Regions from separate parts of the Homo sapiens genome. Here regions 1, 2, 3, 4 and 5 are each linked to region 6. Evidence: fine-mapped expression QTL. A gene starts in region 6. Each other region holds a variant in brackets. All regions are shown on one strand. Distances are between the middles of the regions.

The links. PIP is the estimated chance that this variant, and not a neighbour inherited with it, causes the effect. A credible set is the group of variants that fine-mapping cannot tell apart.
Region 1: its variant is the best candidate, but not a certain one, in a credible set for the expression of FRG1 in whole blood (TOPMed, PIP 0.88).
Region 2: its variant is the best candidate, but not a certain one, in a credible set for the expression of FRG1 in neutrophils (BLUEPRINT, PIP 0.55).
Region 3: its variant is the best candidate, but not a certain one, in a credible set for the expression of FRG1 in whole blood (INTERVAL, PIP 0.63).
Region 4: its variant is the best candidate, but not a certain one, in a credible set for the expression of FRG1 in whole blood (TOPMed, PIP 0.76).
Region 5: its variant is the best candidate, but not a certain one, in a credible set for the expression of FRG1 in visceral fat (GTEx, PIP 0.89).

Annotation. Positions count from the first base shown.
Region 1 is chr4:189,961,900-189,966,974 of GRCh38, reverse strand. It overlaps FRG1 (FSHD region gene 1), which reads right to left. Exons shown (of 9, transcript NM_004477.3): 8 at 5,043-5,075; 9 at 3,783-3,882. The coding sequence ends at 3,846. Among named protein-coding and RNA genes, the nearest start is that of FRG1, 24 kb to the right of the region's middle. The variant A/G (reference allele first, on the strand shown) is at 2,883.
Region 2 is chr4:189,914,319-189,919,393 of GRCh38, reverse strand. All of the region lies in intron 2 of FRG1-DT (FRG1 divergent transcript), which reads left to right. Among named protein-coding and RNA genes, the nearest start is that of FRG1-DT, 24 kb to the left of the region's middle. The variant A/G (reference allele first, on the strand shown) is at 2,004.
Region 3 is chr4:189,980,923-189,985,997 of GRCh38, reverse strand. It overlaps the pseudogene TUBB7P. Among named protein-coding and RNA genes, the nearest start is that of FRG1, 43 kb to the right of the region's middle. The variant TG/G (reference allele first, on the strand shown) is at 2,003.
Region 4 is chr4:189,968,083-189,973,157 of GRCh38, reverse strand. No RefSeq gene overlaps it. Among named protein-coding and RNA genes, the nearest start is that of FRG1, 30 kb to the right of the region's middle. The variant C/A (reference allele first, on the strand shown) is at 2,610.
Region 5 is chr4:190,012,695-190,017,763 of GRCh38, reverse strand. It overlaps the pseudogene RNA5SP174 and the pseudogene RNA5SP175. Among named protein-coding and RNA genes, the nearest start is that of FRG2, 12 kb to the left of the region's middle. RefSeq lists a silencer at 980-1,177. The variant T/A (reference allele first, on the strand shown) is at 3,087.
Region 6 is chr4:189,938,376-189,943,450 of GRCh38, reverse strand. It overlaps FRG1 (FSHD region gene 1), which reads right to left and starts at 2,579. Exons shown (of 9, transcript NM_004477.3): 1 at 2,380-2,579; 2 at 179-249. The coding sequence starts at 2,441. It overlaps FRG1-DT (FRG1 divergent transcript), which reads left to right and starts at 2,718. Exons shown (of 4, transcript NR_149039.1): 1 at 2,718-3,792. RefSeq lists an enhancer at 1,774-2,273.

The DNA.
Region 1 (5,075 bases), 24 kb before region 6:
TATTTGATTCTTCTCTCTTTTCTTCATTAGTCTTGCTAGCAGTCTATCAATTTTGTTGATCTTTTCAAAAAACCAGCTCCTGGATTCATTGAGTTTTTGAAGGGTTTTTTGTGTCTATTTCCTTCAGTTCTGCTCTGATCTTAGTTATTTCTTGCCTTCTGCTAGCTTTTGTATGTGTTTGCTCTTCTCTAGTTCTTTTAATTGTGATGTTAGGGTGTCAATTTTAGATCTTTCCTGCTTTCTCTTGTGGGCATTTAGTGCTATAAATTTCCCTCTACACACTGCTTTGAATGTGTCTCAGAGATTCTGGTATGTTGTGTCTTTGTTCTCGTTGGTTTCAAAGAACATCTTTATTTCTGCCTTCATTTCGTTATGTACCCAGTAGTCATTCAGGAGCAGGTTGTTCAGTTTCCATGTAGTTGAGCAGTTTTGAGTGAGTTTCTTAATCCTGAGTTCTAGTTTGATTGTACTGTGGTCTGAGAGACAGTTTGTTATAATTTCCGTTCTTTTACATTTGCTAAGGAGTGCTTTACTTCCAACTATGTGGTCAATTTTGGAAGAGGTGTGGTGTGGTGCTGAAAAGAATGTATATTCTGTTGATTTGGGGTGGAGAGATCTGTAGATGTCTACTAGATCTGCTTGGTGCAGAGCTGGGTTCAATTCCTGGATATCCTTGTGAACTTTCTGTCTTGTTGATCTGTCTAATGTTGACAGTGGGGTGTTAAAGTCTCCCATTATTATTGTGTGGGAGTCTAAGTCTCTTTGTAGGTCTCTAAGGACTTGCTTTATGAATCTGGGTGCTCCTGTATTGGGTGCATATATATTTAGGATAGTTAGTTCTTCTTGTTGAATTGATCCCTTTACCATTATGTAATGGCCTTGTCTCTTTTGATCTTTGTTGGTTTAAAGTCTGTTTTATCAGATACTAGGATTGCAACCCCTGCCTTTTTTTTTCCATTTGCTTGGTAGATCTTCCTCCATCCCTTTATTTTGAGCCTATGTGTGTCTCTGCATGTGAGATGGGTTTCCTGAGTACAGCACACTGATGGGTCTTGACTCTATCCAATTTGCCAGTCTCTCTCTTTTAATTGGAGCATTTAGCCCATTTACATTTAAGGTTAATATTGTTATGTGTGAATTTGATCCTGTCATTATGATATTAGCTGGTTATTTTGCTCATTAGTTGATGCAGTTTCTTCCTAGCCTCGATGTTCTTTACAATTTGGCATGTTTTTGCAGTGGCTTGTACAGGTTGTTCCTTTCCATGTTTAGTGCTTCCTTCAGGAGCTCTGTTAGGGCAGGCCTGCTGGTGACAAAATCTCTCAGCATTTGCTTGTCTGTAGATTTTATTTCTCTTTCACTTATGAAGCTTAGTTTGGCTAGATATGAAATTCTGGGTTGAAAATTCTTTTAAGAATGTTGAATATTGGCCCCCACTCTCTTCTGGCTTGTAGAGTTTCTGCGGAGAGATCAGCTGTTCGTCTGATGGGCTTCCCTTTGTGGGTAACCCAACCTTTCTCTCTGGCTGCCCTTAACATTTTTTCCTTCAACTTTGGTGAATCTGATAATTATGTGTCTTGGAGTTGCTCTTCTCAAGGAGTATCTTTGTGGCATTCTCTGTATTTCCTGAATTTAAATATTGGCCTGCCTTGCTAGATTGGGGAAGTTCTCCTGGATAATATCCTGCAGAGTGTTTTCCAACTTGGTTTCATTCTCCCCATCACTTTAAGGTACACCAATCAGACATAGATTTGGTCTTTTCACATAGTCCCGTATTTCTTGGAGGCTTTGTTCGTTTCTTTTTATTCTTTTTTCTCTAAACTTCTCGCTTCATTTCATTCATTTGATCTTCCATCACTGATACCCTTTCTTCCAGTTGATCAAATCGGCTACTGAGGCTTGTGCATTCATCACGTAGTTCTCATGCCGTGGTTTTCAGCTCCATCAGGTCCTTTAAGGACTTCTCTGCATTGGTTATTCTAGTTATCCATTTGTCTAATTTTTTTTCAAAGCTTTTAACTTCTTTGCCATTGGTTTGAATTTCCTCCTGTAGCTCGGAGTAGTTTGTCTGAAGCTGCCTTCTCTCAACTCGTCAATGATTCTCCGTCCAGCTTTGTTCCGTTGCTGGTGAGGAGCTGTGTTCCTTTGGAGGAGGAGAGGTGCTCTGATTTTTAGTTTCCAGTTTTTCTGCTCTGTTTTTTCCCCATCTTTGTGGTTTTATCTACCTTTGGTCTTTGATGATGGTGATGTACAGATGGAGTTTTGGTGTGAATGTCCTTTCTGTTAGTTTTCCTTCTAACAGTCAGGACCCTCAGCTGCAGGTCTGTTGGAGTTTACTGGAGGTCCACTCCAGACCGTTTGCCCAGGTATCAGCAGTGGAGGCTGCAGAACAACAGATATTGGTGAACAGCAAATGTTGCTGCCTGATTGTTCCTCTGAAAGTTTTGTCTCAGAGGAGTACCCGGCCATGTGAGGTGTCAGTCTTCCCCTACTGGGGGATGCCTCCCAGTTAGGCTACTCGGGGGTCAGGGACCCACTTGAGGAGGCAGTCTGTCTGTTCTCAGATCTCCAGCTGCTTGCTGGGAGAACCACTACTCTATTCAAAGCTGTCAGACAGGGACATTTAAGTCTGCAGAGTTTTCTGCTGCCTTTTGTTTGGCTATGCCCTGCCCCTAGAGGTGGAGTCTACAGAGGCAGGCAGGCCTCCTTGCGCTGCAGTGGGCTCCACCCAGTTTGAGCTTCCCAGCCACTTTACCTACTCAAGCCTCGGCAATGGCAGGTGCCCCTCTCCCAGCCTCGCTGCCGCCTTGCAGTTTGATCTCAGACTGCTGTGCTAGCAATGAGCGAGGCTCCTTGGGCGCAGGACCCTCCAAGCCGGGCGC[A/G]GGATATAATCTCCTGGTGTGCCGTTTGCTAAGAGTGTTGGAAAAGCGCAGTATTAGGGTGGGAGTGGCCCAATTTTCCAGGTGCCGTCTGTCACCCCTTTCTTTGACTAGGAAAGGGAATTCCCTGACCCCTTGTTCTTCCTGGGTAAGGTGATGCCTCGCCCTGCTTTGGCTCATGCTCGGTGCACTGTACCCACTGTCCTGCACCCACTGCCTGACACTCCCCAGTGAGATGAACCTGGTACCTCAGTTGGAAATGAAGAAATCACACGTCTTCTGCATCGCTCACGCTGGGAGCTGTAGACTGGAGCTGTTCCTATTCCCTTACCAGCTTCCATTCCAGCCCACAAGGACAAAGGCATCACATACATATCCACTGTGGCTAACCTGTCCTCAGCAGGGAGTTTCCCCAGTACTACTCTCCCCTCTGTTCTGAGCCTACTTGCTCCTTTGTAATGTTTCTGCTTTCTGTCCCACTCCCTAATAGATGATTTGTCCTCTCTGCCCAGCCCCCTAGTTCTGATATTTGGATTGTCTGTGATCTGGGTAGTACTTAGAAGGTAGAACCAAAGCCTTGTTGATTGGATTGGGAGTTTCTAACTTCTATTAAAGGCACTGATTAAGCATCTATTATATAAAGTAAAGTAAGATTATGATCCAGTAAGACAGATTCCACAAGTAGCGCAGGAAGAATTGGTTTCTAGTACACTTCATGCTTCAGGACAGGAAATCCAGAAAAAAATTCTGTGGTACATTAAGTGTGAACTGTAAGTTTCATTTCCATGTGAAAAACTGTAGTTAGCTAAAAAGTACATCCATGAAGAATCCTGATTAAACTTGTTTAATCCTGGTTAAACTAGCTAAACAATAATTTCACAACTCAAGAACTCTGTAAAAGCATTTCCTCTGAATATTTTATTCAGAAAAAAACACAGAAAGATAAGGCAGAAACAAAAATCCCAGTCACTTGCAGTATCTGTCGGCTTTCAATTTGGCTCTCCTGTTTAAACAAAGAAAAATAAAATTAATCTATGTAAAACATGCCATATATATTCAACTGCTACTAAATATAAAAAGCTTTAAAACTGTGTGTTCAATTTTGGTTATTACCACAACACTTTTATTAAAATATGTATACTTTTAAATTTGGTTTCTATAAAAAATGGATTCTAATCTTATAAAAGTTATTTCCTAATATTCAATAAATGTTGCCTAAGGGCTTTTTCAATCCAAATAGCAATTTTAATTATTCCGGAATTTAAGGCTGCTCTAAATTTCCATTTAACAGGGTGAGAATGCTGTATTATTACAAGTGATAAAAGTTACAGGACATAGAGCTTATTCCGTTTTAGAGTCCACATCCTGATTATATTTTATATCCTCTTCTTGATTTCTTACAATGAGATACATATTCATTTGCTCAGCTGGAAAAAATTCTTAACATTATTTACTGACTTTAGGTATGAACACTACCAGCTAGTTAACAGGAAATACGTAATTAAACATTGCCTTTATCAAGTAATGTAAAAAAAAGGGTAAGAGTAACTTTGCAACATACGACTTGAATGAGCGGCTGGTGATTATCAAAATCTGGCACTTAATTGATTTATACTTGTACACTCACAGCTAAACGTCTCTGTTTTTCTATGTCATAAATCTAGGACATTACTTATCTACCTAGGAAGAGTAATAAATATTAATAATGTGGTATGATAAACATCCTGCACTCTTCCAAATCTTATAATAAAACTGCTTCAATTTCACTTGTTTAGCTTTTATACTTAGTTTTTTAGTTGATCTATTCTTATTTTAAGGAACCTGAACTACTCTAACAGAATCCACATAATTTTTATATTAGTCAAACTGCTTCTAACTCTGGTTCTAATAGTTATAAAAAGATGATAAATTTATGAAGTAGATACAGTCAAACCTGAATTTCTTCAAGTATATACTTAGAATCGGTTATAATTTTTAGATATTCTTTCATGACAGTCTTTTCCCAAACTTACGATGTCCTCTTTAGGTAATATTGCCACACTCATAAATTAGAAATAAAGACAAAAATGTGAAAAACTACAGTAATTTAAGAGAATGTAGGTTTTCTACATGCCATTTCTATTGGCTACTGAAAATAGTGGAAATAAGTAAATAAATAGCTACCTGTCCAGAAGCGTCTCATGCAAAAATCCATCT
Region 2 (5,075 bases), 24 kb after region 6:
TCTTTTCTCAAAGGAAAAATAAACTTTCTTTTATCTTTATAATATAAGGTAATTTTTACAACTTGGAGCAAGATTAGGCTCTTACTCTCTCATAGAGACTGGGAAATAAGGTATTATCTTTCTGGAGGATTACATTTGAAAGGGATGGCTCCCAGATCCTTGAAAAAGGAAATTTTCTGCTAACAAGTTACACATGCCACTTCTACCTACATTTCACTGGCCAAACCGGTCACATGTCTAAATCTGACCCTTACTTCAATAGGACAGAAATGTATAATCTTCTAGGAGATAGGGCCACTGCAGTAGGAAGACCAGATAATGGGAGAATGGTAATATAATCTACCACATTGACCACAATGAAAACATTAGTAATCCCCAGGGTTAAACCGAGTCTTCTTGGACACTTAGGTTGATTCTAGGCTATTGTGAATAGTGGAATAATAAAAAATAAAGAGAATAGCCCCTTTATTTATTGCAGAGAAGCTAGACAATTCACAGTAACTTATGGCCTAGACAATTTTATTTCTTGATCAACACAACTCTTTATAGATGCCTGTGGTCCAAAAATGCGGATTCCTAATCATCCCCAAGAAGAAAGGATCCACTGCAAGGCAACCTGGGAGGGAGTTTGGGATGGTTCTGAGGCAGTGAAAGCCATTGAAATTCACACGTAAGAGGGTAGAGAAAGGGAATTCACATGTTTTGGTCCCTCCATGTGCTGGATATAACTTGGTCTTCATTACATTGCACCACCTTTGGTGTCAGAGAGAACTGGATTTGAATCCCAGTTCCATCACTCACTATGATTTGATGGTCAATGTGTTTTTAACTCGTCTGAGCCTCAGTTTGCTCATCTATAAAAGATGGGATTGTTACGAGGCTTGCATAAGGTAAGTGTATAAAAATCTGGGAATAATGCCTATAATTTAATAGACGGGGTTGTGATGAGGCTTCAATAAGGTAAGTGTGTAAAAATCTGGACACAATGTTATTAATTTTGTAGGTTTTCAATATATAGAGAAGGAGGATTATTTTTCTCTCATTTAATTTTTAGAACAAGTTTATAAAATTGGTATTATTCATATTTTTGAGATAAAGGATCAGTAAGTTTAAATAAATCACCATAGTCACAAAGCAGTTCACAATATATTGACTGGACAATTGCTAGTGAAAAGTAGCAATGATGATCACATTGAAAATCTTGTGTTAGGTGGTGGTTTTCTCTTGCATAAGCCTCTTCATTTGTTCAAACCATAGATTCTAAGTTGCTCTATTAAAGTGATCATTAGAAAAATATAATGTACTTAGTGTATAAGTTTTAGAAAATTTCCTTTGTTAGTCCTGTTAATTTGATTGAATATGTGCATTTTGAATTATGAATATAAATATGAATATGTATGATATATGAAATATGACTTGACGTCACAGAGTAACATTAGGTCGTGGCAATGTTTTTTTCTGAAAGCACCTGCAGAAATGTGTCTTCTTTCTAGTTTCCAAAAAACTCAGAGGCCATGGGGGAAGAGGGGACTTTGACTGTCAGATAGTGCATGAGGTACATTAGCATACAGTAATTTAATCATAATTCATATTCATAATTCACAGTGAGGAAACCTGAAAGTTGCTACCAGCTACCAATAAATGAAAGGTGGGGCGGCATCACTGGGGGGCGCGGTTTTGTGAGCCAGTGCCTGGACTTCCACATCACAAATGGAAGGGCAGCACGTGGAGGGAACTCAAGGCCTGATTGGTTCTTCCTAAGCAGTACGCGATCTGGCTGGCAGGGCAACCGGCCTTCCGTTGGTGGCCTTCAGTTAGTGCCTTCAGTGGGTGCCTTAAGTTGGTGGCATTTGGTTGCCTTTCCTGGGGAGAGGTGGCAGGTGCTCAGCTCTGCAGACGTGGGGGCAAGCGAAGGCCCAAGCTGCCTCGAGAAGAGCAGAGGTGCCCCATGGGGACCACGATGACGAGTTGCATGTGCACCAAAGCCAGCCCCCGGCAGGGTC[A/G]GCGCAGGGATTCTGCGGGGCCGTCCTGTGGCTCTGACATCTATGAGTGGGCGGCCAGCAGAGGCACAGGCACCAGCAGAGAGGAGCAGAGACGCCCAGAACACACTGTCCCCCAATGCCAGCCCCAAGCGGGGCCAGCTCAGGGTGCGGTGGGCAGAGCCATCCTGCAGCTCTGAGATCCGCAAGGTGGAGGTGGGAGTAGCGCCAGGCTCCACTGTGTTGGAGCTTGCCCCGTTTGAGCCCAATTTGATTCCGGAGCCATGACCTGCAGCACATTGGCGACCAGAAGACACCCAAAGGTAAGGAGGCGACAGATACCGCTTGGCCTCAGGACCTCCTCTGGCCATTGCTGAACCAAGGTTCCCCCAGAGACATCCACAGCCTGGGGCTCCTCCCTTCTTCACCTAGTTCCTTTCCTAGGTCCAGGCCCCAAGCATGAGGACTGGCTCTGCCTGGCGTCCCCACCCCTTCGTCTTCCCCTTTTGCATCCAGCCGGTTTCTTTTTCCCTCCCTACCCAAATGCCCAATTCTGGGTCCTTTTGTTCCCAGAGGCTGGCCAAAAACTAAGTTTTCAAAATACAAAATGGATGCTACAGATTTCGTTGCTGTAGAGGAAATGTCTGGCAGCTCTTGAATTTAAGCTTAAGTAGCTACACTGGGATTCACAATTTCATATCTTGAGTTCTAGACCAGAGCTCTCTACCCTAAAGCAATGACAGGGGGTTAGAGGTACTCTTCTTGATTCTAATAATAAAAAATGATTTTTTTGTAGGGACAAGGTCTCACTGTGTTGCCCAAGCTGGTCTCAAACCCCTGGCCTTAAGTGATTCACCCACCTTGGCCTCCCACACTGTTGGGATGACAGGCAAGAACCACCACACCTGGCCATTGGAGGTGCTATTGCTTTGTGTGGTTGGGCTGGTCTTCAGGCACAGCTGTCAGTAAGATCCTCCTGCGGTATAGTTCTAAGTTTTTCTGCACAAATTCAGTGGATCCTGTGATTTTTTTACATGGAATAGCCCCTTTATTTTTTGCAGAGAAGCTAGACAATTCACAGTAACCTATGGCCTAGAAAATTTTATTTCTTGATCAACACAACTGTTTATGGATGCTCGTGGTCCAAAAATGCAGATTCCTAATCACCCCCACGAATAAGGGGGCCATTGCAAGGCACCTGGGAGGGAGTTTAGGATTGCTCTGAGGCAGTGAAAGCTATTGAAATTCCCACATGAGGGGGCAGAAAAGGGAATCCACATGTTATGATCCCTCCATGTTCTGGGTGTAACTTGGTCCTTGTTAAATTGCACCATTTTTGGCATCAGAGAGAACTGGATTTGAATCCCAGTTCCGTCCCTCATTATGATTTGATGGTGAATGTGTTTTTAACTCGTCTGAGCCTCAGTTTGCTCACCTATAAAAGATGTGATTGTTGCGAGGCCTCCATAACATACATGTGTAAAAATCGTGGCAAAATGCTTGTAATTTAAAAGAGAGGGTTGTTAGGAGACTTCCATCAGGTAAGTATGTAAAAACCTGGACACAATGCCTATAATTTTGTAAGTGTTCAGTATGTGGAGAAGGAGAATTATTTTTCTCTCATTTAATTTTTAGAGCAACTTTATAAAATTGGTGATACTTATATATTTGAGATAATCAAACCAAGGATCAGAAAGACTAAATAAATCACCATAGTCACAAAGCAGTTCACAATACATTTACTGGATATTTTCTAGTTAAAAGTAGCAATGATGATCACATTGAAAATCTTATATTATGTGGTGGTTTTCTCTTACATGAGCTTCTTGGAATTTAGTAAGATAACTTGCAGCTCAAAAAGCAGATCCGTAGAATATTTTATTCAAGAGATTGTAGTGGGGGCCAAAGTATTGCATGAGTTTTGTTGGGAACAAGGTGTAGGCTGAGAATCTTAGCAAACTTCAGTTGGTGGTTTTCAGCTGGTGGGCAGTGGTGGAAGGAGGAGGAGCTCCGTCTGTGCTCTCTCTTACCCCAGTCACAGCCCTCAGGCTTGTTGCATCCAGGCCCTTCTGAGTTAAACCCGACAGGTTGACAGGTTTATTTAGCATTTAGCAGACAAGTCAGCTCAGGGTAGGCAGGTAAGGTGGGGTGTAGGCTGCTAGTACAGTGCTGCCCTGTGGCCCAGGGCTGCCCATGCCCGTGGGGCTATTCCATATATTATATATTATATATATAAAATTATATATATATAAAATTATATATATATAAAATTATATATATATGTATATAAGCCTGTTGGTTTGTTGAAAGCATGGATTCTAAGTTGCTCTATCAATGTGATCATTAGAAAAATGTGATGTACTTAGTGTGTAAATTTTAGAACAATTTCTTCTGTTAGTCTTGTTAATACTCAGTTCTTTTCTAAAACACCTAGCCCAAATCTCCATAGGTTTTAATCGAATTATATTATAATTTGGATTTTCTGGTCTGCCTATCTTCCAAACAATAAACTCCTTAAAATCAATTTTCTATTGCTGCCATAACAAATTACCACAACTTTGTGGCTTAAATCAAAGACTTACGACCCTATAGTTCTGTAGGGCAAACCTCTGACCGTGGTCTTACTGGGCTTAACTCAAGGTATTGTCAGGGCTGTATTGCTTTCTGGAGGCTCTAGAGAGAATCCATTTCCTTTTCCAACTTGTAGATGCTGTCCCCATTCCTTGGATCATAGGACCATCCCTCTATCTTCAAAGCCAGTAATGTGGGATATCTGTGACCATTGTTCTGTGGTCATGTCACCTTCTGACTGCAGCTAGGAAAGATTCTCTGATTTTATATTCTGTGGTCATGTCACCTTCTGACTGCAGCTAGGAAAGATTCTCTGATTTTATAGACACATGCAATTAGATTGGCCCCCAAGATAATCAAGGATAATCCCCCTAACTCAAGGATTAATCACATCTACAGAATCCATTTTGCCCCATGTAAAGTAATATGGTCACAGATTCCAGGGACTAGAACATCTTTATGGGGTCATTATTTTGACTGTCACAAAGGCAAAGTCTTGGACTTACTCATATCTAGATTTTCTTT
Region 3 (5,075 bases), 43 kb before region 6:
CAGGGCCCCTCGGGCTGGCTGAATGATGGTAATAAATTACTAATGCCAAGTACCAATCACAAGAGTATAACTCAGCACTTTCATGATTCTTTTCACCCTAGAAGGGATTCTTTGTTTCTGTTAATGTCTCACTTGTTTATAGGGGTAAATCTTTTCAAGACACTAAAACAGGTGACTCAGCACTGTGAGCTCTGTGCCTGACATGACCCAAACGGCCAGCAATTTTCTCCTCCAGTTAAACCTGTCCAAAATTAAGGAACCTATCCAGGTGAGAACTGGCAACTCTAATGTACCCCAATGACTTTCTGCAAGAGATTCAAATATTTGCTAATGCTTACTGATACCTTCACTGGTTAGATCGAGGCATTCCCCACCCCATCTGAAAAATGTTTACCAGAAGAAATAACTCCTCAGTTTGGGTAATCTAAAAGCCTGCAAAGTGACAATGGCCCATCTTTCACAGCAGGCGTAACCCAACACCTATCCTCAGCTTTAAGAATCCAATATTACCTTCACTCTGTGTGGAGACCGCAGTCCTCTGGAAAGGTGAAAGGGCTAATCCTAAAGAAGACTCTAGCTAAATCAGAGGCCTGACTATCTCTAACACCCATAGCTTACTGCAGATTTGAACTGCTCCAAAGTAAAACGTATAATTAAGTCCTGTTAACATGTGGAAGGCCTTTCCTAACGACAGATCTCCTAATAGATGAAAAGATTCATCAATTACAAAAATATGTCATCAATCTAGGACAGGTGCAAAGGCACTCCGTGCATATGGAAACAAGCGTCTTCCCCTCCCACATGGGAGGAAAATTCAGTTTCAGCTCAGCTAGGGATTTAGTCTTACTAAAGACGTGGGAGGAAGTTCTCCAGCTGAGCAGCTTTCCCCAACGTGGAAGGGACCACGCAAGGACACCTGAGTTCTCCAACAGACGTTCAACGCCAGGGGAGTCACAGGTGGGTGCACCTGTGTGGAAGTAAAGCTGTTGCTTATTCTGGGAGCCCAATCCTAGGCTGAGGGAGGTGGGCGCGGGGCTGTTTAAGCGTTGGCGGAGGCCGGGCTGGGTCGCTGTGCGTCTGCTCCTCCTTCTCGCGCTTCTCCTGCCGCCCTAATCCTGCCTTGGCCACGAGGGAGCTTGTGCTCACGCAGACCGGGCAGTGCGGGAACCAGATCGGCGCCAAGGTTGGCAGCCGGGGCTCTGAGGGCCCAGCCCGGGCCTGCCGGGTGGCCGGGGAAGATGTTGGCAGCGGCGGGGGCGGTGCCCCTGCATTGCGGCCCCTGGGCTCCCTGCCGGGGACGGTGGAACCGGGTGGCTGGCGAGGCGGCGGGGGTGGACCCCAGGGACAGGGCGGCCTGGGGATGGGGGTGCGGATGGGGGTGGGAGAGCGGCTGGGGCGCCTCCGTGACTCAGCCCCGGCCTGTCTGGCCCCTCCCGTCTCCGCAGTTCTGGGAGGTGATCTCTGATGAACATGCCATCGACTCCGCTGGCACCTACCACGGGGACAGCCACCTGCAGCTGGAGCGCATCAACGTGCACCACCACGAGGCCAGCGGTGCGACCCCCGTCCTTCCCCCACCGCCCTCCTGGGAACGCGGCCCTCCCCTCGCTCATGCCCTCCCGCCCCACGCAGGTGGCAGGTACGTGTCCCGCGCTGTGCTCGTGGATCTGGAGCCGGGCACCATGGACTCTGTGCGCTCGGGGCCCTTCGGGCAGGTCTTCAGGCCAGACAACTTCATTTCCCGTGAGCTGCGGGCGAGGACTGGGGTGCGGCTCCTTAGCCAGGGCAGCTCGAAATCCAGGAACGCTCCAAGGTCATCCTGTGGGAACTGTGGCGCCAGGGCCCCTGAACACCCTCCTGTCCTCCGAGTCGAGTCGCTCCATCTGCCTCCTAAACGGGCTTCGGGAGGAAGGCCCGCGTGTCTCCTCAAGGTGAGGAGCTACTGATGTAAACTCCCTGCAAGGACCTGAGCTGGGGCCGTGGCTACTGCCTTCCCTGAGAA[TG/G]GGCCACCTGCAGCGAGGTCTGTGAACCCGTCTCAGGTTCGACTCCTGACTTAATTCCTAACAGGGGAAGCTGCTGTCCTGTAACTCCTGGGGAGGGGGTTTCATTTGTTCCACCTGCAGCGAGTTCTGTGAGCCCGTCTCAGGTTTGACTCCTGTCTTAATTCCTAACGGGGGAAGCTGCTGTCCTGTAACTCCGGGGGAGGGGTTTTCATTTGTTCCACCTGCAGTGAGGTTAGCCCCTCTCAGGTTTGACTCCTGACTTAATTCCTAAGAGAGGGGAAGCTGCTGTCCTGTAACTCCGGGGGAGGGGGTTTCATCTGCTCCACCTGCAGGGCGAATGGTGCTCTCACCTCACACGTGACACTTGGCCCTTTCTGCATTATGGTGGTGACCACTGATGACCGTATACCTGGCCGTCGAGTGACCGGCTGTGCTGTCTTACAGGTCAGTGTGGGGCCGGAAACAACTGGGCCAAGGGACGCTACACCGAAGGCGCGGAGCTGACGGAGTCAGTGATGGACGTTGTCAGAAAGGAGGCTGAGAGCTGTGACTGCCTGCAGGGTTTCCAGCTGACCCACTCCCTGGGTGGGGGGACTGGGTCTGGGATGGGTACCCTTCTCATTAGTAAGATCTGGGAGGAGTACCCAGACAGGATTATAAACACATTGAGCATCCTGCTCTTGCCCAAGGTGTCAGACACCGTGGTGGAGCCCTACAACGCCACCCTCTCAGTCCACCAGCTCATAGAAAACGCAGATGAGACCTTCTGCATAGATAACGAAGCGCTATATGACATATGTTCCAGGACCCTAAAACTGCCCACACCCACCTATGGTGACCTGAACCACCTGGTGTCTGCTACCATGAGTGGGGTCACCACGTGCCTGTGCTTCCCCGACCAGCTGAATGCTGACCTGCGGAAGCTGGCCATGAACATGGTCCCGTTTCCCCGGCTGCATTTCTTCATGCCCGGCTTTGCCCCACTGACCAGCCGGGGCAGCCAGCAGTACCGGGCCTTGACTGTGGCTGAGCTCACCCAGCAGATGTTTGATGCTAAGAACATGATGGCTGCCCGTGACCCCCGTCACGGCCGCTACCTAACGGCGGCTGCCATTTTCCAGGGTCGCATGCCCATGAGGGAGGTGGATGAACAGATGTTCAACATTCAAGATAAGAACAGCAGCTACTTTGCTGACTGGTTCCCCAACAACGTAAAAACAGCCGTCTGTGACATCCCACCCTGGGGGCTAAAAATGTCAGTCACCTTCACTGGGAACAACACAGCCGTCCAGGAACTCAAGCGGGTCTCAGAGCAGTTTACAGCAACGTTCAGGCGCAAGGCCTTCCTCCACTGGTACACGGGCGAGGGCATGGATGAGATGGAATTCACTGAGGCCGAGAGCAACATGAACGACTTGGTGTCTGAATATCAGCAATATCAGGATGCCACGGCCGAGGGAGGAGGAGTATGAGGAGGAGGAGGTGGCCTAGAACTCTCCTTTTCTAGGTAAAGGGGGGAAGCAGTGTGGATCCTTCACTGTGTTCTGACAGCCATGTGTCACTATGCGCTCGTTCATTTGTGTCTTCACATCTCCTGCTGCATTTTAAAGCATTTTTATAGTATGCGGTTTTGCCTAATAAAGTATTCTCACAGCATCTGGTTTCACCTCCAACTTCTATGGGCCCTCTGGCTACTGCTGCCAGATGTGCACAGTTGTCCTGCAAGGCGGAAGCTGTCTGGGTTCATCACATGCCCAGGAACAAGCATTCCAGTGGCTCTAGGAGGGCTCGGCATGGGCTGTGGACATGGCAGGCAGGCGCCACATGAACTTGGGGATGCCCTGGGCCTTGGGCAGCGACGTGGTGGAAAGCCTGTTCCTGAAGAAAAGCCTTGGCTTATCCCATGTACCAAACTTTTAGGGGACCAGTTGGCCATGTGTCTGGAACTTTAAAAGGGCTCAGCGACCCTGGTGGACAATGTCCCCAAAGTCCCATCTCGGGGTAGGAATGTGGTCAGACAGCTGGCTCTGAACCAGCAATGAAGGGTGGGCAAGTGGGACCCCAGGCACTCCATCACCAAGACGGTCTGGGTGTGTTTGTGTGGCCTCATTCTCTTCACGAGGTGGGCATGGGGTATCTGGCAGGGACTAGGCAGGAATCGAGCCCAGTGTCTGCTAACATGCACTGAACCCTATGTAGAGGGGGATTAGGTCCTGGGGGTCGTATATGGTGGTTGCTGGGCCTGTGTGCTCAGGGCAGTCTCTCCAAAGGCACAGATGGGGTTTCTGAACAGGACCTGGGAAGACAGGCAGGTGCTCACAAATGCTGCTTCCCCCAACTGGCAACCAGTGAGAAAAACGCCCAAGTGGAGGTCTGACCTGCCCCAGTCTGGAGGGCTGATGCTCTCTGGAAAGATGGGTGATGTGCAGTGTCTGCTGTCTCCCTGTCCCCCACTCCAAAACCTCAGAGCAAAGATAATCCAAGATTGCCAGGATGAGCCTGGTGAGGGTGGCACCTTTTTAGGGATAGGCCCTTCAGACTGGCAGAGTCTCCTCCCCAAGCTTCTCGGGGAGCCTGGACTGCAAAGCCCGCTTTGGGGAAGCTGTCAAATAAGAGGTGTGTGTGTGAGCTGGGTGCTGGGCAGCAAGCACGGACAGGGCTCTTCTCCCTGGCTCTTGTAGAACTTGTCCATGGTCTGTGTGATGACCCCTTGGTAATTCCCACCGCCACCATCACACAGATAAGATGAAGCCAGCACAGCCTGGGGGTGGGCAGATGAACAGGTTCTACCCCAGGTCCCCTGGGAATGTCCATCTGCCTCCGACGTGTCAGGGAAAACAGGTGAGGCCCCTTCTTGTTCTCTGAATGTTGTCAATGGTCTATTGCAGCCAAATGGGAACAGACAGGCAGCAGAGTGTCTCATCTCGAAAGAAGTGGCTCCTGGAAGCAGCTGGGAGGTGGGAGAGGTTCCCCACACTCCCCCAACCTCCCCCACACTCCCCCAACCTCCCCCACACTTCCCCAACCTCCCCCAACCTCCCCCAACCTCCCCCACACTCCCCCACACTCCCC
Region 4 (5,075 bases), 30 kb before region 6:
AAGCTTGAAGTTTAAAGTAGAATTTTGCTCAGCCTACATATCTTTTATGGTCAGGCTGCTATAATTATGTAATACCCAGTTAAATTTCAATTTCAGATAAACAAAGAATAAGTTTTAGTATAAGCATATCCCAAATATTGCATGGGGTATACTTACACTGAAAAAAGTATTTGTTTATCTGAAATTTAAAATTAACTGGGCATGCTATATTTTCTGTGGCAACCCTGTTTTATAGAGAGCAGAGTAAGTCAGCTAAATTTTAGAATACTTTAACCTGGTGTTCTAGGTCTTTCCTTTTTGTAATTATTATTATTATCTGGAGTCAGGGTCATGCTCCATCACTTAGGCTGGAGTGCAGTGGCACAATCACAGTGCCCTGCAGCCTTGAGCTTCTGGGCTCAAGTGATTCTGGCACCTCTGCCTTTGCCTCCCAAGTAGCTAGTACCACAGGTACGTGGGCCCAGCTAATTTTTTTTTTTTTTTTTTTTTTTCCCCGTAGAGACAGGGTCTCAGGGTGGTCTGGAACTCCTGGGCTCAAGCAATCCTCCCACCTCTGCCTTCACTTCCCAAATAGCTGAGACCACCGGCACATACCACCACCATACCCAGCTTATTTTTTATCAGGTTGGTGCAAGAGGAATTGTGGGTTTTGCCATTGAAAGTAATGGCAAAACCTGCAATTACTTTTTGTATCACCCTAATAATTTTTTGTGGAGACAAGGTCTTGTCCTGTTGTCTAGGCTGGTTTCCAAGTCCTGGACTCGAGTGACCCTCCTGCCTTGGCCTCTCAAAGTGCTGGGATTACAGATGGGAGCCACTGTACCAAGCTACTTTGTATAATTTTTAACATAAATGTAAATGTTTTGAGAACTAGAAATGTTAAAACCCTTGGAGGAAAATGTAAAGTATACAATAGAAAAAAAAATACAAAAAATTATCAATTTTCAGAGGAACAAAAAATATCCAGTTTTTACAATCTTCAGGATTCAATCCCATTATATCAAACATACCAAGAAACATATTCAAAGAAAAAGGCAATCAATCGAGACTGACCTCGAGACGACCGAGATGTTGGAATTAGTATGGATTTTTTAAAGTAGTTATTATAATTCTTACTAAAATCAAAACCCCAAAAACTCTTATAATAAATGGATAGAAAATCACAGCAGAGAAGAAGAAACTACAGTAATAACAAAGCCTCAAGTGGAAATTCTAGAAGTGAAAAATTTTTCAAAATTAAAAAATAATAGTTGTGTTCAGGAGCAGCTTGGAGGTGGTAAAGAGTCAACCTTAAAATACAATTGAAATTATTCAATCTGAAAAATGTGAGCAGTCACGGGTTGAGGTGAGGGAGTTTTCCTTTGGTTAGTGCTTTTAGGTAATCTTGGTTTTTTTTTTTTTTTTATTGATCATTCTTGGGTGTTTCTCGCAGAGGGGGATTTGGCCGGGTCACAGGACAATAGTGGAGGGAAGGTCAGCAGATAAACAAGTGAACAAAGGTCTCTGGTTTTCCTAGGCAGAGGACCCTGCGGCCTTCCGCAGTGTTTGCGTCCCTGGGTACTTGAGAGTAGGGAGTGGTGATGACTCTTAACGAGCATGCTGCCTTCAAGCATCTGTTTAACAAAGCACATCTTGCACCGCCCTTAATCCATTCAACCCTGAGTGGACACAGCACATGTTTCAGAGAGCAAGGGGTTGGGGGTAAGGTCACAGATCAACAGGATCCCAAGGCAGAAGAATTTTTCTTAGTGCAGAACAAAATGAAAAGTCTCCCATGTCTACTTCTTTCTACCCAGACACAGCAACCATCCGATTTCTCAATCTTTTTGATAAGATTACTAGATTGATCTGTCAGGGGCATGCTAAGCCAGAATTTATCTTGGTTTCAGTAGTGCTTTAAACAAAACTCATGATACCCTTGTGTTCAAGACAGAAGAAGAGTGGGCCAAATTAAATATTTAGATGCAGTCATTCTTAACCTCTGTTGCTCTCCCAGTGGTCTAGCTGGGGTTTGTATAAAGTGGAATGGGAGGAACAGGGAAGGAGCCCCCACCTACCCTCTCCCCTTGTCCACTTGTCCTCCTTGACTAGTGGATAAAGTCCACGGGAACAGGCAAGTTATTTTCAATCTGTATCTTCTGTTAAGATCTGTAATCAGTTCTGCTTGCTGGACTGGGGACAGGAACCGAGGGAACATGAGGGTGAACGAGGTGACATGGAGTCCAGGAGCACACTGTGCCTACATGCAGAATGTTTGTGCCAGGAAAGCCAGCAGCAGGCAGATGGTCTCAGATAGCAAGCTAGTGTTGGGAAGCAAGATTCAGTCTCTTGAAGGCGTGTTCCTCAGTGTGTGGTTTGTATCACTTGCTTCAGAATGACCTGGAGTACTTGTTAAAATGCAAATTTTCAGCCCAATCCTAGACCTCCTAAGCCTGCATCTCTACGGATGGGTCTCAGTAGTCGATATTGGAAACGGGCAGGTCCCTAGGAGATGCTTATGCATATAAATTTGAAATGTGTTTAAGGTTTAGGGAGCTGGCAAAAGCAAGGAATAGACCAAGCCCTTGGGTGGGAAGCCTCCACAACGTTGGCACTATTAGCATTCGGGG[C/A]GGAAGAGGATTCTGCCACATGCTTCGCAGCATCCCTAGCCTCTACCCTCTAACACCGTATCCCAGTTGTGAAAACCAAAAATGTCCCCTGGGAGGCAAAATAGTCACTAGTTGGGAACCGAAACCACTGCTTTGTATCAGAGTAGTTACTTTGTTCCTAATCCAAGGATCAGAACACACGATGAGAGAAAGTCTAGCTATGGGAACTGGAGTGCCAAGTTGGAGCTAGACCTACAACAAAAGCACCAAAAGCTCCTTTATAGGGCTGATTCCGTGCCTCAGCTACCTAGCTTGTACAAATGCCATGTAACTCTAGATTTGATGACAGAAGGCATTTAAAGGCTAGAACTAGTTAGGGTCTTTCAGATTAGGCCAGCACACAACGTGGACTTTTGACAACATCCAGATGCTTGAACCAAACTCAGTCCTGAGGCAGAATTTCCCGTGGCATCTGATACACAGCCTGGATTTGGAGCACTCACTAGGATTAGATGCCATGGGAATATTGTGTTTAGGAACTCTGAAAGAGACAGGCTTCAACAAAGCAGACCTAAGCAACACGTAGCGTCTTAACTTTTTTTTTTTTTTAACAGAAATGTTCAGAGCACCTTTATTTGTAATAGCCTAGAACTAGAAACAACCCAGATATCCTCCAATGACTGAATGGTTAAACAAACTGTTCTATATCGCCACTATGGAATTTTTTTTTTCTTTATTGTACTTTAAGTTTTAGGGTACATGTGCACAACGGGCAGGTTTGTTACATACGTATACATGTGCCATGTTGGTGTGCTGCACACATTAACTCTTCATTTAACATTAGTTATATCTCATATCGCTATCTCTCCCCCCTCCCCTGACCCCACAGCAGGCCCTGGTGTGTGATGTTCCCCTTCCTGTGTCCAAGTGTTCTCATTGTTCAATTCCCACCAATGAGTGAGAACATGCTGTGTTTGGTTTTTTGTCCTTGCAATAGTTGGCTGAGAATGATGGTTTCCAGCTTCATCCATGTCCCTACAAAGGACATGAACTCATCATTTTTCGTGGCTGCATAGTATTCCATGGTGTATATGTGCCACATTTTCTCAATCCAGTCAATCATTGTTAGACATTTGGGTTGGTTCCAAGTCTTTGCTATTGTGAATAGTGCCACAATAAACATATGTGTGCATGTGTCTTTATAGCAGCATGTTTTATAATCCTTTGGGTATATACCCAGTAATGGGATGGCTGGGTCAAATGGTATTTCTAGTTCTAGATCCCTGAGGAACCACCACACGGACTTCCACAATGGTTGAACTAGTTTACAGTCCCACCAACAGTGTAAAAGTGTTCCTATTTCTCCACATCCTCTCCAGCACCTGTTGTTTCCTGACTTTTTAATGATCACCATTCTAACTGGTGTGAGATGGTATCTCATTGTGGTTTTGATTTGCATTTCTCTGATGGCCAGTGATGATGAGCATTTTTTCATGTGTCTGTTGGCTGCATAAATGTCTTCTTTTGAGAAGTGTCTGTTCATATCCTTTGCCCACTTTTTGATGGGATTGTTTGTTTTTTTTCTTGTAAATTTGAGTTCATTGTAGATTCGGGATATTAGCCCTTTGTCAGATGAGTAGATTGCAAAAATTTTCTCCCATTCTGTAGGTTGCCTGTTCACTCTGATGGTAGTTTCTTTTGCTGTGCAGAAGCTCTTTAGTTTAATTAGATCCCATTTGTCAATCTTGGCTTTTGTTGCCATTGCTTTTGGTGTTTTAGACATGAAGTCCTTGCCTATGCCTATGTCCTGAATGGTATTGCCTAGGTTTTCTTCTAGGGTTTTTATGGTTTTAGGTCTAACATTTAAGTCTTTAATCCATCTTGAATTAATTTTTGTATAAGGTGTAAGGAAGGGATCCAGTTTCAGCTTTCTACATATGTCTGGCCAGTTTTCCCAGCACCATTTGTTAAATAAGGAATCCTTTCCCCATTGCTTGTTTTTGTCAGGTTTGTCAAAGATCAGATGGTTGTAGACATGTGGCATTATTTCTGAGGGCTCTATTCTGTTCCATTGTTCTATATCTCTGTTTTGGTACCAGTACCATGCTGTTTTGGTTACTGTAGCCTTGTAGTATAGTTCGAAGTCAGGTAGCATGATGCCTCCAGCTTTGTTCTTTTGGCTTAGGATTGACTTGGCAATGCAGGCTCTTTTTTGATTCCATATGAACTTTAAAGTATTTTTTTCTATTTCTGTGCAGAAAGTCATTGGTAGCTTGATGGGGATGGCATTGAATCTATAAATTACCTTGGGCAGTATGGCCATTTTCACGGTATTGATTCTTCCTACCAATGAGCATGGAATGTTCTTCCATTTGTTTGTATCCTCTTTTATTTCATTGAGCAGTGGTTTGTATTTCTCCTTAAAGAGGTCCTTCATGTCCCTTGTAAGTTGGAGTCCTAGGTATTTTATTCTCTTTGAAGCAGTTG
Region 5 (5,069 bases), 74 kb before region 6:
GGCCCGACTCTGCTTAGCTTTCAAGGTCAGTCGAGATCCCGTGCGTTCAGGGTGGTGTGGCCGTAAAGGCCGGCAGTGGCGGCTGCTCGACTCCTGGCGTCACCGCCACCCCTGGGCCGCGGGGCTCAGATCCGGGGCCCCAGAACCGCTCCCCCGCGGCCGGGCTGCTCTCGCCATCAAGGTCCCAGCACCGCCGGCCGCCGCGCTGCGCCTTCCGCCGGCCTCCCAGAGCCACCCCCGTCGCCTGCGGCCAGAGAACGCGCCGTGGCACCGCCCTGCTGCAGCGCGGGAGAGCCAGAGACCTCAGTCCCCTGCCCAGGCTCCAGGCACACCAGGTGGCCTCCCTTTTCGCAGACGCTCCAGGCCTTCCCCGGCTTGGGAGCTCCCAAGCTTCCAACACATCTGGCCGGCTCAGGACGGGGTGTGCTCCGAGGCGTCAGGGCCCAGGGCCAACTGTCCTGGGATCCCCTCCGGTCCTTCGTCTTGCCGCAGAAAAATTGTTTTGGATCCCTCGCCGCCCCTCCTGCAAGGCCCCCTCTTGCCCCACACACCCAGAGCCGTCAGGGCTGTCCAGGGGCAAACAGCCGGCCCAGCCCTGAGGGCCCTTTTTCTCACAACGCCCACACCATTGTCGCTTGTCCCAACGAGGACTCGCCCCGTTGGCCAAGGCCCTGCTTTGCCCCGCGCTGGCACTAGAGCCCCCGCAGCCTGATCCCGGGGGAGAGGGGCTGATGGGCCACCCAGACACACCCCACCACCACGAGCAAACCCACCCCGACACGCACACAGATACACACGGGAGCACGCGCGCGGTCACACACACACGGACACACACGGAGACACACACGGGCACACACACACGGACACACAAAGACACAGACACAGACAAAGATAGCTTGAAGTAAGGGAGGAGACCACCCCTCATATTGTCTTATGCCCAATTTCTGCGTACTGAGACTAACACAGCAACTGTGACACCCATGCGCTGGCGATAGAGTAGGCAGCCTGATCCCGGGACAAAGTTACTGACGGACATCCAGACACACCCCACCACAATCACGAGCAAACCCATTCCCAAACAGACACACATGGGCGCACCGCTTTTAGTAAAAACTAAAAGGCAGAAATGAAATCCATAGGCAGACAGCCCGGTGTCACACCCTGGGCCTGGTAGTTAAAGATATACCCCTGACCTACTCGGTTATGTTGTCTATAGATTACAGACATTGTATCGAAAAGCACTGTGAAAATCCCTGTCCTGTTTTGTTCTGATCTAATTACCGCTGCATGCGGCCCCCAGTCAGTACCCTCTGCTTCCTCAATGGATCACGACCCTCTCACGCAGACCCCCTTAGAGTTGTAAGCCCTTAAGAGGGACAGGAATTACTCAGTCGGGGAGCTCGGTTTTTGGAGACATGAGTCTGCGGATGATCCCAGCTGAATAAAGCCCTTCCTTCTACAACTCGGTGTCTGAGGGGTTTTGTCTGCGGCTCCTCCTGCTACAGAAGGAGAGGAAGGGAGAGAGGAATGGAGAGATAGAACCAGAGGGAGAGAGAGAGACAGCGATAGAGAGAGAGAGAGACAGAGAGTGGGGGAGGAGAGAGAGAGAGAGAGGGAAAGAGAGAGCGCGACAGAAGAGCGCGAGGTGGAAGGGGAAGTAGAGAAAGGGAGAGGCTGAGGGAGTTGCAGAGCGAGAGCGACAGAGCCTTGGAGAGGGAGGCTCTGCTCAGGTAGACAGGCCCCCTTTGAGCAGGCCGGGGTGGGGTGGAGGGTGCTTAGGCCGGGCTAGAACAGGGGGTCAGGGCCCCCCATGCGGGAAAACCAACGGAGCCCTGAGACGTGTTTTTTCTTGGATTGGTTGTTTGCTTTGGGGGTGCGTTTCATAGGGTCCTTCCTTTGTTTGCTTCTTTCTGTCTTCTCGATGCGGTGGCCCCCCAGATTTGTAGATGCGCCCATCCGTCTGGCGAGAGCCCTGGCTCTGAGCCTGTCCACGGGGCCAGGCCTGGGTCTCTCTCGTGTCCTCGGGACTGGAATTTACACGAAGTCGGTGGCAAAGTGCACAGGGACGGATTTCCTCACGGCTGGCGAGGGCAATGTCCTTCCCCCGGGTAAAGCAGCCCACGGGTTCCGGAGCGGAGGTCTCGGCTGGCGTCTGTGGGACCCGCTGCCCCTGCCCGCCCCTTCCCCCGGTTTGGACCGTCGCAGCGGCGCTGGATGAATGAATTGCCTGGGCTTCCGGGGAGCGTGAAAGACACCCGGGACCTCAGGGAACCCGCGCCTGCGCCCTCGGGGTCGGTCCAGTCCGCCTGGGTTGGAGCCCGGCTCCTGGTGGGGCTGCGGCGAGTCGGAAAAGGTGGGATGCTGCTGCCTGGCGGTGCTGCAGTGGCGGATCTTCAGGGGGAGGTCCTGGGCTTCGGCTGGGGCGCAGGGGCGGACAGGGTGGAGGGAGGGGGCGGTTGGGAAGCACGGAGACAAAACGGGGAAAGAGGGAGGGAGCGGGAAGCCAAAAGCCTACGGTACCCGCTATTCCCAGGCGGAATCCATCCAAGTACTAACCAGGCCGGACCCTGCTTAGCTTCACGAGCTCAGAGGAGCTGGGGCGCGCTCAGGGTGGTGTGGCCTAGACACCGGCAGCGGCGCCTGCCCGCCCCGACAGCCCGGCCCAGCCACGTCCGCCCGGCTCCAGGCGTCACCGCCACCCCGGGGCAGCGGGGCTCGGATCCGGGACCCCCAGAGCCGCTCGTCCGTGCCCCCGGGCAGCTGTCTCCCTCTACGCCCGAGCACCGCCGGCCTCCCAGAGCGTCCCGCCGTCGCCGGCGGCCAGGCCTCGCGCAGGACCAATGTGGCGCCGCCCTGCTGTTGCTGGGGGGCGTCCTAGGCCTCCGTGCCCTGCCCAGGCTTCCGGCTCTCGGGGCGGCCTCCCTTCCGCCCACGCTCCAGGGCGTCCCCGGCTCCCGAGCTCCGAGCTCCACCACATCGGCCGGCTCAGGACGGGTGTGCTCATCCCTTCACTTTTTAACTTTTTGTTGTTTCTATTTATATTTTATTGTGCTATGTCTGGAAATGTTGTAGCTATTACTTTTGAT[T/A]GGATATTATTTAGTATTCCTACTTTGAATAAGAGTAGTTTGCACATCCCACAGCTACAGCGTTATAATATTCTGTTTTGTTTTGTATCCTATTAGCACTGAGGATTTTTTTTACCTTTAGGTGATCATTTATTGCTCATTAATGTCCTTTTCTTCCTGATTGAAGTACTCTCTTTAGCATTCCTTTAGGACAGACATGGTATTCATAAAATACTTCAGCTTTTGTCTGGAAAAGTCAGTATTTCTTCTTTTTATTTGAAGAATATTTTCACTGTATATGCTATTCTAAGGTAAAAGGTTTTTTTTCCTTTAGTACTTTAAATATTTATTGCTTCTCTCTCCTGGCCGGTAGGGTTTCCACCGTAAAGTCTGCTGCCAGAGGTGTTGGAGCTCACTGTTATGTTCTTTGTTTCTCTTCTCTTTCTTCCTTTAGAACTTTTCTTTATCTTTGACTTTTGGAAGATCTATTGAATGCTTTGAAGTAGTCTTTTTTTGGGTTAAATCTGCTTAATGTCCTATAACATTTTTGTAGTTGGATATGGATATCTTTCTCTAGGTTTGGAAAGTTTTCTGTTATTATCCCTTTGAATAAATTTTTCTACCCCTGCCTCTTTCTCTACATCTTCTTTAAAACCAATAACTCTTAGATCTGTCTTTGTGAGGCTATTTTTCTAGATCCTGTAGGCATGATTTGTTGTTTTTATTCTTTTTCTTTTGTCTCTTCTGACTACGTATTTTCAAATAGCCTGTCTTCAAGCTCACTATTTCTTCTGCTTGATCCATTCTGCTATTAAATGGCTCTAATGCATTCTTCAGCATGCCAATTGCATTTTTCAGCTCCAGAATTTCTGCTTAATTTGTTGTAAATTTTTCAATCTCTTTGTTGAGTTTAGCTGACAAAATTTGGAATTTCTTTATTTTGTTATCTTAAATTTCTTTCAGTTTTTTTTTAATACAGCTATGTTGAATTCTCTGTCTGAAAGGTCACATATCTCTTTTTCTCCAGGATTTGTCCCCGGTGCCTTATTTAGTTCACTTGGTGAGGTCATGTTTTCCTGGATGGTGTTGATGCTAGTAGATGTTATTCAGTGTCTGGACATTAAATTCTTGGGCATGCAGCACCATATGAGAGGTTTAAAAAATAAAATTAAAAAAGAGAAAAGGTGAGTATTTATTGTAGTCTTCACTGTCTGGGCTTATTTGTAGCTGTCTTTCTTGGGAAGACTTTTCACATATTTTAAAAGACTTGGGTGTTGTGATCTAAGCCATATCTGCTTTATGGGTACCTTGTACCCAATAATGCTGTAATTCTTCCAGACTCAGAGAAGTACCACCTTGACAGCCTTCAACAAGATCCAGGAGAATTTTCTAGATTACTAGCCAGAGACTCTTGTTCTCTACCATTATTTTCTCTCAAAGATACAGAGTCTTTCTCTCTGTTCTAAGCCACCTAAAGCTGGGAGAAGAAAGACACAAGCACCCCTGGCCACCACCACTATGACTGCCCTGGATCAGACCTGAAGCTAGCACAGCACTGGGTCTTGCTCAAGTCCTGCTGCATGCACTTTCTGATGACTGCCTATGTTCACTCAAGGCCTTTGGTCTCTACAATTAGCAGGTGGCAAAGCCAGCCAGGCCTGTGTTCTTTCCTTTAGGGCAGTGAGTGCCCTCAGTCCCTGGCTGGGTCGAGAAGTGCCATTCAGAAGTCAGGGAGTAGAGTCAAAAGTTTTAGAAGTCCACCTGACATTCTATTGCATTGCAGCTGACCTGACACTCAAACCACAAGACATAGTCCTTCCCATTCCTCCCTTCCTTTCCTAAAGGCAGAGTAGCCACCACCACCTCAGGCCACAATGAGTACTGCCAGGCTACCACCAATGTTCCCTTAAGGCCCAAAACCTCTTGTCAACTTGCGATGAATGCTGCCTGGCCTGGGACTTGCCGTTTTCAGGGCAATGGGCTCCCTACTGGCCCTGGGCAGCT
Region 6 (5,075 bases):
AAGGCATCAGTAGCATCTACTGTGTTAAAGAATAAATGGAATTTATAACTGTAGGTAATATTTAAGCACTTTAAGACAAATATGAATACATCATAAATTTCTAACTAGGAAAACACTTTCAAGGAGATCTCAAGAAACATTAACTTTTTTCAGAATAGAGCACTGAAAACTGACTCACCAACAATATCAAGCTGGGTTTCTTCATCTTCTTCTCTTTTTCTTTTCTTATCTTTGCTCTTTTTCTTCTTACTACAGGACATAATTTATATAGACGAGTTTAGGTATATTGATTTGTACGATAAATATTGTAAGATTGAAACTTGAAAGTCTTTTAAGCTGTTTCATTTATAAATTATTGATTTAGGAAGACTTACATTGATATGCCCTCTTAAATACAGTACTGAGAAGTTGCTTCAGGCTTTGCACATATTACGTTAGAGTTCAAAGCAGATTGTAGAGCCACACTGCCAGATTTTAAATCCTGATTCTTTCACTTCTTAGCTCCGTGATTTTTGGAAAAGGTACTGAATCTCTCTGAGTCAGTTTCCCCACTTAAAAAATTAGGATAGTAACTTAACCTAACTCTTAAGGCTATTGTGAGGATTAAGAGGTAATATGTACCTTCACACATTCCTGGTGGAAATGTAAAATGGTGCAGCATCTACAGGAAACAGTTTGGGGTTCCTCAAAAAGTTAAAGTTACCACATGACCCAGCAATTTTACTCCTAAGTATGTATACCCAAGGGAAATGAAAACATACACCCACAAAAATACTTACATAAGAATATTCACACTAGCATTAGTCACAATAGCCAAAAAGGGGAAACAACCCAAATGTTCATCAGTTGATGAATGGATGAACAAAATGATACATCCATACAATGGAATACTATGCAGCCATAAAAAGGAACAGGCGCTACAACAATGATGAACCTCAATAATGTTATAAGTGAAAGGAGCCAGATACAAAAGGCCACATGTTGCATGATTTCTTAGGAAATATTCAGAATAGGCGATTTCACATAGAGAGCGGATTAGTGGTTGCCAAGGACTAGGAGAGGGGGAGGATGGGATGTGACTGCTTTAATGGGTAGGGGGAGATTTCCTTCTGAGATGATGAAAATGCTGAGCAACTAGACAGTGGTGAACCTCTTGAATATATACTAAAAACCCCTGACTGTACAAAAGGGTGAATTTTATAATTATGAATTATATCTCAATAAAAAAATAAAAAACCAAGAGTGATTTGAAAAAAAGTTAATGTGCAAAGTGCCTACAACAATTTCTTGGCACATTGACAGTGCTATATGAGCATTAATTATGATTATTACGATGATCTTAAGACACCCGTGTCTGCATTTTCATTATAAAGTTTTCAGAAGATAACTCTCCTCTCCTCCCAGGAAATTCACAGAGTAAAAATCTCACATTCATTCAGGATAAACCTGCCATTTATTCTGGCATCTTCATGAGGCCAGACTCCTCGAGAGGGTTCTCAAGGCCAGTGGCTTCAACTCACTCCTTGATACTTTCTATCTCGCCTAAAAATATCAAAACCTCTGTTTATCACGGAGACCAGGAGGAAATACTCGACATTTGTATGTACCTCGGGCAAATCTGCCAGTTAAAAAAGAAGCGGGGATATGAGTGCACAGGTATTTTTTCCTAAAAAGCTAATAAATTACCATTACGACCTCCTCCTCACATTTGGCTCAATTTATTTTCTGCATATATGTTCTCTCATTTAATCCTCACAGTCTTCTAAAAGTATAAAAAACGTCTGAAAGTATAAATGTGTAAACGGAGGTTCAGATATTTGATCTCTTAATGAGTAAATGGAAGTTCAGACATATTAACCAATTTGCCACAAATTACAAAACTAGTAAATGACAAGAGTGCAGGTTCGAGCCCATATCCCTAAAGCCCATATACACCTCAACCACTGTGTGATTCATCCTGGTTTCACTGTACATATTAGATTAGAAAAAATTAATAAGTTTTCTAGAAAGAAAAGAGACAATGGAGAAAATAATAATCCCTAATAAAGGAAATTATCATGAACTACGAGATCAGACTAATGCAGACCCCCCAGGCAGAGGCCTGGAGAGATGCCTCAGGGGACCCAAACTCGTGGGTACGGGGTCACGGGTCACCTGCCCGTCTATCCTGTTTCCAGGGTCGTCCGCGCGGGAGGCTGCCCCTCTCTGCACAGACGCCGGGAACCGCGGCCCGGCCTCCGTCCAGCCCGGACAGGGGCCAGGGCGAAGCCTGGGAGGCCACAAAGCCGGCTCTCCGCGCCACGGCTTCCACCGGAGTTGCGGGGGTGGAGTGCGTCCGAAAAGAACGGAGGAGGCTCCCGCCCAAGCTGCAGGACCCACCTCTTCGTCTTGGTTCCCTTGAGCACGAGCTTGGTAGACTTCACGTAGGAGTACTCGGCCATGGCTCCGGGAAACTTCTGCGCGGAGAGGCTGAGGCCGGTTCTGGACGAGTATGTGAGTCGGGGCAGCACAGGGGCGCGGAGAAACAGAAGCGGACGCGAAATAAACACTCCCTGACAGCCTACGTCTCTGTAGAACCCGCCTCCGTCTTCACCCAAACGCTGAATGGCTCAGAGTTCCACTTCCGGGTTTCTGCCGGGGAGCTACGGCGGCCGCAGAGGGCCAAAAGGCATCCGCGCGCAGCTGCTCCCTGGCGCCCTCTCAAGGAGCCCCTGAGGATTCGCGCCTCCCGGAAGGGAGAAAAGCCCGCCCGAGGCGCGGTGCTGACGGTGGCTGGGCTGCCGGGTGCGCTGTGGAACCGCCTCCTGCTAGAGCAGCGGGCTGGCGACGGTCCTCGCCGGGGCGGGAAGCGGCTCAGGCTGCCCTCGCTGGCCTGCGGCGGCGCGGCTGGAAGCGCGGGCCACTCGTGCGTGGGTCACTCAGGACTGCGCCTCGCGCGACTGTGTGTGCAGGAAACAAGCAGGAAATACCCTAAAAGAGAATGAAGCGCCATGTTGAGGGTCGCGGACGTCGCGAGTGCTGTGGGAATGTGGGCTGAGGTGGAGAGTTATGGTAGCCCGTGTTACAGGCTCAGGGGTCTGAAAGAAGCCTAATCGTGGAGGCGGCATCTGAGGAGGGTCTTGAAGGCTGGGCAGGCATTTGCCCGACAGAGATGGAGGAAGCTAGTCCTGTCTGATGGAGGAAACAGGGCGGAGGCGTGGAGGGAGCCGTGCAGCGCTGGTGTGAGGAGCAGCGAGCAGGCCAGGCCTGTAAAGCAGAGTGAGGGAACCAGGATAGAGAAGGCAAGTCGGGGTCCTGTGGTCGCTGAAGAATTTGAATGAAATCAGTAAACAGGTGAGAGGGATCCATCGCAAGAGCATGGGATGAAAGGAGGAGTAGTCCACGGTGATTCCTCTGCAGCGGTGGGTGTTATTAATCGCGTATGTGACACCAAAACCACCCCACTCAAGCTGTGGCTCTTTCCCTAAAGTAGAAAACCGAGACCAGTTGGGTTCCAAGCATCCACGAAGATCTTATTAAATTCGTGATCCCTGGTGGCACCATGGAGTCAGGATTGGCTCATCTCAAACCTGACTCAGAAACAAAACCGTCACAATGTGCAGAGATGAGCGTCCTTACCGCTATCAACGTATTTTCTGGTGTTTTCACAGTGCTGCGCTTCCTAATCCCCATTCCATGGCAATCCACATGCCATGATGCCCGGAGTCATTAACAAAGGAGACACACAGGGGCTCCTCACGTTGGCTTTCCAGGGTTTTGATGAAAATCTGTTTCCTCGTCTCATACAATGTGGTTAGTAATAGTATCATTTAGGGTTGAAGAATTAAATGGTACGAGTTATATAGGGTGCTTATTATAACCTACATGGAAAATGCCTAGGATATGTTAGCTATGCTCATCACCAACATCGTTATATGATGGTAATAATCAGATAGTCAGGAAGCCTGACACCAAGAAAATGGATACATGCTCTGAAGGAATGAATGTGGAGAGATCAGAAGGTCAAGAACAAAGTCGTACAATATGTCTACAGTAAAGGGATAGAGAAAAGAAAGGCTATAAAAGAAGGAATGAAACAGAGTTAAATTATAGAAATCAAAGCTAAGGAGAATTTCCAGAAAGGGTAGTATCATTTAATATCATAGAAGTTTAGGAGCCCAAGATGGAAAAAAGGCCTCTGGGTAACTGACATTGAGGCAGTCTTTGGGGAAGCTCCATTTCCGATAGAGAAGTAGACTGAAAGTCAGCTTGAAGCAGGGACTAGGTGAAGAAGCTGTTGGCTGGTCGCATGGGGAAATAAATAAGGGATGGCATATGCCGTATTTCTGGATTTCTTTCTTTCTTGCCCAGCCTCTATATATGCACAGAGTTTGGCGAAAACTTACAAAAAATAAAAATGAAACCAATTTCGTTTGTAGACCCAAATACAATGCTTTCTGTTAGAATCAAGATAAATTCATGCCTCTCCCTTCTATTCAAACCGTCAGTTTTGAAATTAAACATCAGCTTTTCTTCTTCATTAAAATCATTTTCAGCTCTTCCCATTGATGGTTTGGGGGAGTTGCATAAGCAGTCAGGTCTTGATGAGTAGAGGAGGAGGGAACAAACACTTTCAGCAAAGGCAGAATTCTGAAATTCTGCTCATATTTTTTTCCAGTAACTTTCCTATGTTTGTGAGGTTATTCAGTCATAAAGATCCTAGTGAAATGTTTTTCAAGCTTTACTAATCATAATCACTGTGGACATTTGTTTAAAATGTGTATTCCCAGGCCTCTCACCTGGTGATTCTGATTCAGGAGATCATGGATGGGACTCAGCATACATGTGTTTGACAAGTATCACAAGTGGTTCTTATGGTCAGGCAAATTTGGGAAACTAACCAGGAATTTATGTTTTTATGACTGGCAGCTAGAAAAGATTCCTAGAGTCTTTGCTTTTTGAAAATAAAATATTTCTTTTTTAAAAGGAAAATTGTATGACTAGATACAGCATTTATACATGTGATAAATGTACTATACTGTGTGCTTTTGTCATATTTACAGTTAAAGATGTGTAAGAACACTCTGAGAAAAATT